Regions from separate parts of the Homo sapiens genome. Here region 1 is linked to region 2. The links come from fine-mapping of genetic effects on gene expression. A gene starts in region 2. The other region holds a variant in brackets. All regions are shown on one strand. Distances are between the middles of the regions. Region 1 has its middle 22 kb from the start of DNAH6. Region 2 holds the start of SUCLG1 (succinate-CoA ligase GDP/ADP-forming subunit alpha).

Region 1 (5,384 bases), 34 kb before region 2:
TATTGTCTAATTACAATTATATGAATCTCTAGAAAATACAAATCTAATTTACAGTGATAGGGAATAGATCAGTTATTACCTGGGGCTGGGAGAGGGGTAGGAGATTAACTGGCAAGGGGAACAAGAAAATTTTGGGGAGTGATGGAAATGTTTTATATCTTGGTAACTTTGGTGGTTACATGGGTATATAAATGTGTACAAATTCACTGTACTGAATTTCTTAGAACATGTGCATTTTATAATATGTAACTTATAACAATAAAATTGATTTAAAATTATATTTCTAGTATTAGACCTCAAAATCACAGGTGGGAGTTTCTAAACATACAGATTTCCAGGACTCATGCCAGATCTGATGAATTAGAATCTTTGGCATTGGCACCCAGGCAAGTATTTGCTTGAAAAATTCTTATAGGTGATTCACATGAATATCTCTGGTTTAGAACCACATCTGCAGGTGAAGAAATATAAAGATGAAAATATTTTAAAGTTACATTAAGTATTAATGTCATAAAACAGTTTGCATAACATGATTATATTTTTGTAAGCCCAGAATATATATAAACTCAGAAACTACATAGAAGAAAAACATAAATATTTAGGAGATTTATGGTTATTTTTATGTGATGCCCTTTGCTATTCTGTGTGTTTAAAAATAAAGACCATATCCTACTTTTACAATGAAAAAATTAGTTACTTTTAAATTAGCATAAGAAGGCTTAAAGTGGAGGGACCATGAACTTGGTGGAGGCCAGGATGAAATGGATCAGGAGCACTGCTGAAAGATTTAGTTTTTGATAAAAAGAAATGACATCTGTCCCATGTAGATGGAAGAAAGGTGGCAGTGGGTTAGGTAAAGTGATAGATTTGGGGCCTTATTTATTCTATTTCCTCTCTGAAGCAGGAGATGTGGTCAGCTGCTGAGAAGCGTGGAGGTGGGAGTGGGAGAGGCGTCATATAATTTATACGGGAGTTAATGTCTCTTCAGCCTTGGCTGTCCAGTGTAATTTCAGGGTCTGTGAACTGCTTACAATTGTATTCATGTTTGTGTGCGTGTATTTCTTTGTCTGTAACGTTGATAAGATTCTTAAAAGAGTCTGTGACCAATCACCTCTCAAAGATGAGAATTAGACATAGTCTGCAAGTGGGGCACTCTTAAGTGTTGGCATAAGTCACGGGCTGCTTAACTTTCTGAGGGGTTTGTGATATCGTATTCTGTTGCTTCATCACCACCTCGTGGTCAAATATATGCATTACCAGATTTTGTATCAGGGCAATGGTTTCTTAAATCTGAAAGGAACTTGAGGCATTATATGGTCTAATGCCCCATTAGTTATGAGAATTAATAATTATTATAAAGTTTTCCTTCAAAATATTGAACCAATGTGAATATGTATGAGTGATGAGCCCTGCCAAGCCTAGATAATTACATTTCAAGACTTAAAGGTCTTTGCAGAGGTGATCTCTAAGTTAGTGTTTTTGTGATTTGAAAAGGTCAAAGAGGCTGGACGCAGTGGCTCATGCCTGTAATCCCAGCACTTTGGGAGGCCAAAGTGGATGGATCACCTGAGGTCAGGAGTTCGAGACCAGCCTGGCCAACATGGTGAAACCCTGTCTCTACTAAAAATACAAAAATTAGCAGGGCATGGTGGTGCATGCCAGTAATCCCAGCTACTGGGGAGGCTGAGGCAGGAGAATCGAGTGAACCCGGGAGGTGGAGGTTGCAGTGAGCCGAGACTGCCATTGCATTCCAGACTGGGCAACAGAGCAAGACTCTGTCTCAATAAATAAATGGTCAAAGGGCATTTAAACTTAGTTGCATATTAAGATCACTTAGAGAACTTTGAAAAATTCTGATGCCCAGGCCACACATCATATGAATTAAACTCTCTAAGAGTGAGAGATCCAGACATTGATAGTTTTTCTAAAGTGTCCCCTACCCCAGGTGATTCCACAGAGACACATCTGAGAGCCTCTGCCACAGCAGCTTGCTATTCAAGGTGTGATCCATTGACTAGCAGCATTGGCATCACCTGAGAGCTTGCTAGTCATGCAGAATCTCAGATCCTGCTCCAGACCTCATGAATCAATCTGTATTTTAATAATTCCCAGGTGGTTCAGTTCATATTAAATTTTAGAAGTGCTGCCATGGAGAACAGAATTGGTGTCCAGTAAGTCTGCTGGATATGGAAGGCTGGAATGGTGCCTGGAAGGTGAGTTTCTCATCTTTGATCACATCCAGTTACAGGAAATGCATTATATCTGTGCCTCTGTTAGATAGTTCTAATTTTCAGAAAGTTCTGTTTTGGGTAGATGTCAAAATCTACTCTCTAGTCACTTCTACAAACTGTCCCCGTGTTTTTTTCTAATGTTTGAATGCAGATATTATTCTACTCTTAATTTTCCTTCTTTAAATCTCTCCCTCCTAACCTTCCAGTTTCTTTAGTCCGTGTATGATATTTTTGCAGAACTCTCTTTAGTAATTCTACACTAAAAATGGCTCTTGGGACTGAAAGTGGGATTTTCGATGTGATGTGACATAATGAGTACAGTAGGAAAATGATTCCCCTTCATCTAGAAATTCTGCTAATGTCTCCTTTTTGCTTCCTGAAAATCAGGATATTAGTCATGGTCTTCGTCAAATGCTACATTATAGAGAACCTGTATCCGGCAAACAAATCAACATTGATGGTCCCAGGGCCTCAGATGATTCATATGCTACCACTAATAGTGTCCTGAGCTCTCAGAGAGAGACCAACGTGTGAGTCCTGGGCTGAGGTTTTTTGGACCTTTGTCTCCAGTGCAGCCAGACTCTTGTCCCC[A/G]ATCCCCTTCTCCTAGGACCACATCCTTTCACAAAGACAGCCCTTCCCTCAGTGTGGCTGACAGGGAAAACCTGCAAAACGCAACTGCTGCCTCTGATCTCACTCTGTCCATTCTGTCTTGCCTTTGACTCCAAACTCAAACTAATGACAACCACTCCTGTTCTTACTGTGGCCTTAGTTCCTCGTGCTTGACCATAATACACCTTGTGTGCCTTGGTGGGGAGCCTTGCTTGTTGTCACAGTCTCTTCAAACTGAACAAACAGCCTATCATGGACCAGTTTCATATCAGTTATCCTTGTTAGAATATTTGATATCAGCATCTCACCCCTTTACTCATCTTTGGGCCTGAAGCTGTTGTGTCTACCAAGGATGTCCCAGCCTAGCTTCCTCTTGGACCATCTGCGTCACTTGTATAGCCATCCAGTCTTCTGGCGCCGATTCCTTCTGGAGCCTTTCAGTGATGACTCATTTACATAACTTTTTAACTCCAGGAATTTAAACTATGTAGGCTCAGCCAACGATTTTTGCTTATAGAGTTCAAATTAGCATCTTGGAGAGAAATTTTTCAGCATTTGTTGAGTTTTGAAAGCTACGTGTATCTTTTAAAGGTAGTTCCTCTTTTATAAATTTGACTTTAAAAATATGTGATCAGAGGCACAAAGATATTTATTTAAGGATTTTAATGGAAGCTACATTTAAATAAAATATAGTATCTAAACTATGATTCCCAATAAGTTGCTCTAGCCAATTAAAACGATGAAGGAGAGTTATATGTATTGACATGACATGGGGCAATATACTCAATATACTGCTAAGTGAAAATGTGAGTTTCAGAATATTATACATTATTTCATTTTGTTTAAAAATATACATATGGTATATAGTCTATATTTATGGTACAGAATTTGTATACATATATTATCTACATATAGCACAGAGCAGGGATTAGCAAACTCTAATCTATGGGTCAAATCCAGACTTCTACCTGTGTTTTTGTAAATAAAGTTTCACTGGATCATAGCCATGCCCCTTTAAAATAGTAAATAAAAATATTTACTATCTGGTCCTTTAAAGTAAAGATTTCCCAACCCCTGCTATAGTAAATATATATACATGTAGTATATAGAAAAATATATAGAATATACAGTATATATAGAAAGCGGTCACCATGTCAAGATAAAGTACCATTTTTATTTTAGGAGACTGAATCTTCTAGAAAATTTCTCATTGCTGTCAGCTTTTGCTTGTGTTATGATTTTGTAGTTTGTGTCATTATTTTTTATTATCTTTAGACATATTGGAACTCAGTAAGTTAATACTAGAAAGACTCCAGAAATTGTGGTTTCAAATGGTAAGAAGATAGTGACACACAGTGGGCAATAGCAGTAAGCTCTGAGAATTCATTCCCCGAGGCACTTAGGTATTTGGATAAAAAGTGTATGACAAGATTATTCCCATAGATGTAAGAGCAATATGGCATTTTGACTATACCAAACTAATTTTATTTCTTCTTAAAACCCCACTAAAAGAATTTCTTTAAAGTTGGAAACTCAGAAAAATTAGAAGAATGGGAAAAGAAACAAAAATATGAAATATGAATAGTAAGTGATTTAACAAAAAATAAAGGTGGACTCTAAGCAATAGTGAGAAAAGAAAATAACCAACTAATATACATAATAGAATCCTTCAAGCCTCTGGAATTTGTGGCACCACACAGGTCTGGAAATAAGGGTTGAAACAAGGGGGTTGGTTGACAGTCTGTTCAAGGATTGAATGGGTCTTCAGATTTGCTCCATCCTCCCCCAGTTACAGGACAAGACTGGAAATTTATTCTCTGGAATGAGTAAAACAGAAGGTCTCTACTCTAAGGGACAGTAGGCACATTTGAAGGTGGGTAGCCTACTAAAAACAGTGTCATTATCTGAATGTGAGCATGCAAAATGACAAGATCACCCAACCCTCTTTCCCTACTTAGCTCTCAGAAAGGTGACATAGTGTGTTGAATCATTACAATTTTCTTTAGACCTAAGGCATTCCCAAGATGGGGTCTATTTTAAAATTATGATAGGCCTGAGCAAACAAGGATGAGCTGGTTACCCAAGCCTTAAAGCACTGGTAGTTAGACCTCCACCTTCTGAGCAGTAGACTGGGAGAATCTTCTCGGCGGAATCTGACCGGCGCAACGGGGAAGACCTGAATGTGTGGGCAGCCAAGTTCTACGACTAAGTGGCCCAGCCAGATCAACCCTGCAGTGAAGCATACAGTAAACAAGTTTTACCTGGGTACTGTTTTGTGTTTTTAGACCCTCTGTCTTAAAAATAGGCAGACAACTAAAGACTGTTAGAAAATTCAAGGAAAGCCTCTAACACCAAAGACAGAAACCAAAACATTCAACAGAAAAAACAACTTGAGAGGTAGGCACATGATTCAAATTGCAATGATCAGAGTCTTTATCTTGAATTCTAAAATGTGGATCTGGGAGAAAGAACACTTCTTCTGCAGTCCCAGACATCATGTCCACAATGAAGATAGAATGAAGGGAATAAGCTTAAAGAATATAC
Region 2 (5,384 bases):
GCCAAGGTTAAGGATGCACTCGTGACTCAGGAAGTCTGGATGACAGGTGCCCAAGGTGGTTGGGGGTACAGCTTGCTTTTATACATTTTAGGAAGGCATGACATATCAATCAATATTTGTAAGATGTACATTGGTCCATCCAGTAAGGCAGGGACTTCCTGGTTAGAAGTAGATAAGAGACAAAAGGTTGCATTCTTTTGAGTCCTTGATCAGCCTTCCACTGAATACACAATTTAGTCTGGCTCAGTGAATCTGCATTTTTACATAAACAATAGGGCAGAGGGAGCAATCAGATATGCATCTGTCTCAGGTGAGCCTCAGAGTGATGACTGAGTTCTGCCTGTCCTTTATCCACCAGGAATTTCCTGTGGGCAAATTGTGAGGGAGGTATGTAGCTTATTATCTTTGTAGCTATATTATTTAGGAATAAAATGGGAGGTAGGTTTGCCTCAGGCAGTTCCCAGCTGGACTTTTCTCTTGGCTTGATGACTTTGGGGTCCCGAGATTTATTTTCCTTTCACACCCTCATACAGTGAATTCTAGTCTTTTGCTTATCTGAGCCGGCTGGGATGTGGGGGTGAGAATTCAAAGACAAGTTTGGCCACTTCCTATCAAACTTCAGAGAGAAGTAGCTCCTAGACTGCCCTCCTTATGGATGTGGAGGTAAGGCTTGTTGTCTTCAGCTTTAGAGCTTTAGACAAAGTTTTGAGACAAATAGAAATATCCTATTCTAATTTGGTTACTCACTTTAGTTAAAACCTTTAAAACATGATCCTGCCATGTAAAAAAGACAGTTCTTTAATGATAATAACTACCATTATCGACTATTTGGTACAAGGTGACAGTAGCTTTATATACTAAATGTATTAAATGTTCACAACACTCTTATGAAATAGGGAGTTTCATACCCATCTCAGTAATAAAACCTGAAACCCAGAGGTCATGTAGCCAGTGGCAGAGTTGGAATTTGAACCCAGACCTGTCTGATTTCCAAACTCAATCTGCATACAAAGATGAGTGGTGTGGTATTGACTAGTGTGGTTGTCCCCTACCTATGAGCTACAGAATTGAGGTAGGGGTGTTCCCGGACCAAACTGAGGGTTGGGCTGCTATTTTTTGTGGCCCAATAATGAGATGTAGATGAACTGGGGAGGAAGAGAGTTTTTATTTCTGCAACCGATTACAGGGAGAAGGCCTGGAAATTATCATCAGACCAACTTAAAATTACAGTTTTCCAGAGCTTATATACCTTCTAAGCTATATGTTTACTTGTAAGTGTGCATTTATCTAAAGACATAAGTGATTAACTTCTTTTAATCTATAACTAAGGTCTGAGTACTGAAGACCATCCTCTGAAGCCTCAATAAATTTACTTAATCTACATGGGTTTAGGTGCTGGGGTGATTACCCTTATCTTATCCCCTGCTAAATCACAGAGGTTTGGAGAGTTCTTTCAGACCTCCAATAAACTTGTTTGTGGAGGCCTGGGGAGTTTCTTCGGACCTCCAATAAAACTTGTTTAATCCTAAATGGGTCCTGTTAAGAATTTCTTCATTAATTTGTCATGCTTCAAGGCCCAGGAAAGGCCTAGGCAAAACCCTTGGTGGGTTTCTGTTACATCTCAGCCTTTGTATAAGGGCACTGGCTTTTAATATTTAACTTAACCACTCAGTCAGCACTGAAACATTGTTATGGAGGCCTGCGTTAGTGAGACCTGGTCTGCCACAGGGGTGCAGTTATTACAAGAGGTTGAAATATCCTAAGTCCATCAAACATTGCCTGTGGATCCAAAAAATAATCTATATACTACTATTTCTCCTATATATATCAATTCAATTCAACGATGAGTTATTTGTGTAAGGCATTGTTCTAGGTGCTGGGGATACTCCAGGATACAAAACAAACAAAAATCCCCGTCTTCATGGAAATACAAATTTTCATTAAAAGTGTACTGAAATTATATTTTTTGTCATCATGCATTTTATCAATTAAATGAAACTAAACATATAACTTATCAAGCGACAGCTCAGGAATAATTTTGCTATTTAAAATAGCAAGGGATTTTCTATTTATTTGCCATAAAAATGTCCATTTTGTTATAATGGATATATCTGGAAACCACTGATACTATTTAACTCTGAGGAATTTAGTTATCACAAGAACATGATCCATGAGGGAGGAGTTTATTTGCAGTGAAGTCCAACCTGTTAATGACAATATTTGGATCATAAAGGAAGTATTGGGCAATCTCCTGGGGTAATCCCACTCATCCATCCCACAGCTCAGTGCCAATTATAATGACTACCTAAGTAAATTAGGATTGCAATTTTATTGACAATTCTGATGAGGAATCTCAGGAGCACGATTTTCGGCAGAGACGCAGATTACTTCATCTCTTGTTTACCTTTTGACTCTGGGACTCTCTGAGGTTCCTTCTAAAGCTGTTACAGAAGAGGGAACTGTTTGTCCAATCAGGGAGCAAAGTCACATTTGACCTCGAATTTCAGCCCTTAGGATCCTCAGGGAATAAACACTCATGCACTTAGTGCTAGTCAAAGACTGCATGATTATTTAACTAAAAAAATTCACATTCCAAGAAGTTAACTGTCAGTAAGATAGGTTTTGGTCTTTCTCATCACATCTTTCCCTTCACAGGCCACCAGTGCCAGTTCGAATTCCCGTCCCCAGCGGCAACCCTTCCGGGTCCAGGCACAGGTACGCGGTGAGAAATATTATTCTCTCTAATAGCAAACGAGGAAAACGAAGGGGGAAGGAGATGGGCCTGGGATACAAAGTTCTGGCACTGCTCTTCGCACCTCACCTCGCTGTTTCTTCCCTCCTAGTCTTCAAGTCCCTTGTCTCCCCGGTCTCACTGCCGCTCTTCCCTCGCTCCCTTCCCGCCGCCTCACTCAAAAGCTACGAACCAGTCGCGGCCGTCAGACTACATTGCCCACAATGCCACGCGCTGGCCAGTCTCGCGTGGGGTTTTCCCTCAGCTGCTGTTATAATTAATGTTAATCAAACCCACATTTCTAGGAAGGAGCCGAGTTATTATCTGCCTCTCCGATAGGATGCCTCTTTGTCTTCACCTGCCATTCCCGCTGTTTCGTGAAGAATCCTCTGTAAAGGGAAATTTGTTCAGGCGACTGCTGTGGCCACCCTCTGCCTCCTCCGGCCTCTGCCCCTGGGAGGTCCCCGGGGGCCTGGGAGTGTCATTGGCGTATGACCGCAACCCTTGCCGCTGCCGCTGACATCGCTACCATGGTCTCCGGCAGCAGCGGCCTCGCCGCCGCCCGTCTCCTGTCGCGCAGCTTCCTCCGTGAGTCCAGCCAGTACTGTCTTCCTGGCGCCCGCGGGTTATTGGCCCCGCCGGACCCAACCTCCTGGCCCAGGCCGCGGCTGGGCCCTCAGGGCTGGACCTCGGCGGGGGCCTGGGAGCCGCTTGGGATTCCGGCTTCGAGTCGGGGACCCCTACGGTGGAAGGAGCTTTGCTGGATACGTGGGGCGGGGGGCATGACTTAGGCCGCTGGCAGATGGAGATATTGGGTGGCTGAGCCAGGATTCGGGTCCGGGAGCCCTGCAAATTTGGGAGCTTGCTCTCGGCCCCGCGGTGACAAATGACAGGATGGGGGTGGCGTCTAGACTGGCCTTATTTGGAGTTGGGGATGAAGAGGTCCAAGGTGAACTTGGTGGGGAAGGTAAGGGTCTGGGTTGAGAGGTAGAGGAAGAGTGTCTCAGTAGGAAGTTGGGGGATGAGGCTGTCCCTAGTACGGAAAGGTCCTGCACTTCGAATTCCCCCTCTGCAGGATTGTATGTCAGGGAAAGATGGTTTCTGCACACGGAGTGGGGTCGGCATAGCCGCATAGACTACTAGAAGCTTATGGTTGGCTGGGACCTAAACCAGCTTATTTGCAGTGTCTCCACCAGGCGATTTGTGGACACATCCGTTCCCGAAAACTTAGTACCCAAGGTTGCTAGTCTTTGAGACACGCTGACTATGGAAAATTCTTGCCATATTCAAAGTCTCTGTGCTTGTCAGGTAGGTTATAGTAGAAAGAAACTTTGGAATCAGCCACATCAGGGTTTGAAGTCTGGCTAGTCCCTTTTCAGTCTGTGTAATAACCCTGGACACTTAATCTGTTTTTCAGTGTTTCCAATCACATGAAAATATTAACACATTTTAAGGGGCCTGAAGCACCATCACTTGTAAGGTGGACCATTATTTTGTTTACCACTAACAATGAAGAACGATTGCTTATTAAAACTGTGACACACCAGTGGTTGTCACATGTATCCTGGTTTTTTAAAAAGTGAAAAAAAATGTGCATTTTAGCAATGATGATGTACAGGATGATCTGGGTTCACTGCAGAATAAGTGGAGCAATTTATATAAAGCATCTCGTATGTAACAAACACTCAAAGTTAGTTTTCTTTTTCCGCTTTGCTCTTAATTCTGCTTGTACTGAATATTTTATGAGACTTAATTCCTTTCTTGAGAAGATTACATTCTGAAAGTGTACATTGATGAGTGTGCACTCAATAGCTAACACTTAGTTGCCAATCACTTGAGGACAAAGGTCTGGCTAGATAACGTTAGCAAGTATGAAATGGTTTGTTTGGTAAAGCTTTCTGGAGATTCTTGAGAGTGTTGTAGGCAGAAGGACAAAAAGAATTCATTATACCCAGTAATCACTCAGGTCAATAAAGTTTGAGCACCAAGAATGAAGTATATTGGATATGGTTTTAAACCAGCTTAATTTGAATAGATAGTGGGTTAGAATGTAGAAGATCAGATGTGCAGCACAGCCACTGTGGTGGGAAACCCTAGGAAGAAGTTGCCCACCTGTGTCTTTCGCTTCTGTGGTCTTGCTAGTCTGAGGTTCTGAAAGATCCTAGCCTCAGGTAGGTCTGCTGTCTAGAAAAATCTAGAGAATAAAGGAAGAGTGTCTAAAAGATCTAGTTCCTTACTCCACCCTTAGCAGTCCTCTCAATCCTCTTCCCACAGAACTGGAAGTGTGTTCTTCCTAGACTCCCAGGATCATTTGGCCCTAGAGTGACCATCTGGTTTAGTTTTGTTACTGGAGTGGGCTTGAATTATTCAAGTCATGTGATTAACTTGTTATTACGGGTCTGAGATTTAAACCAAGATGTATTCTATATTAAGAGGGGTTACAGACAACAATGCTTAATGTGTAAACACCTCTAAATTCACAAAACTCTAACTCCTCTTTCCCATGCCACATTTCCGAGCCCATTTTCACTCCCACTAGAAAAATAGCAGCTACAACATCACCTTGCAAACTTTTTTTTTAAAAAGGGACCAGAAATTATTTAGTCTGTGAAGCTAATAGAGCTACAGATGTTAGGGAATTTTGTTCCCTCTG

Evidence for each region. PIP is the estimated chance that this variant, and not a neighbour inherited with it, causes the effect.
Region 1: its variant is the best candidate, but not a certain one, in a credible set for the expression of SUCLG1 in whole blood (TOPMed, PIP 0.59).

Annotation. Positions count from the first base shown.
Region 1 is chr2:84,491,581-84,496,964 of GRCh38, reverse strand. It overlaps a transcript of DNAH6 not described here. Among named protein-coding and RNA genes, the nearest start is that of DNAH6, 22 kb to the left of the region's middle. The variant A/G (reference allele first, on the strand shown) is at 2,823.
Region 2 is chr2:84,457,108-84,462,491 of GRCh38, reverse strand. SUCLG1 (succinate-CoA ligase GDP/ADP-forming subunit alpha) reads left to right here and starts at 3,212. Exons shown (of 9, transcript NM_003849.4): 1 at 3,212-3,319. The coding sequence starts at 3,223. It also overlaps a transcript of DNAH6 not described here. RefSeq lists a silencer at 2,666-2,855 and an enhancer at 3,036-3,175.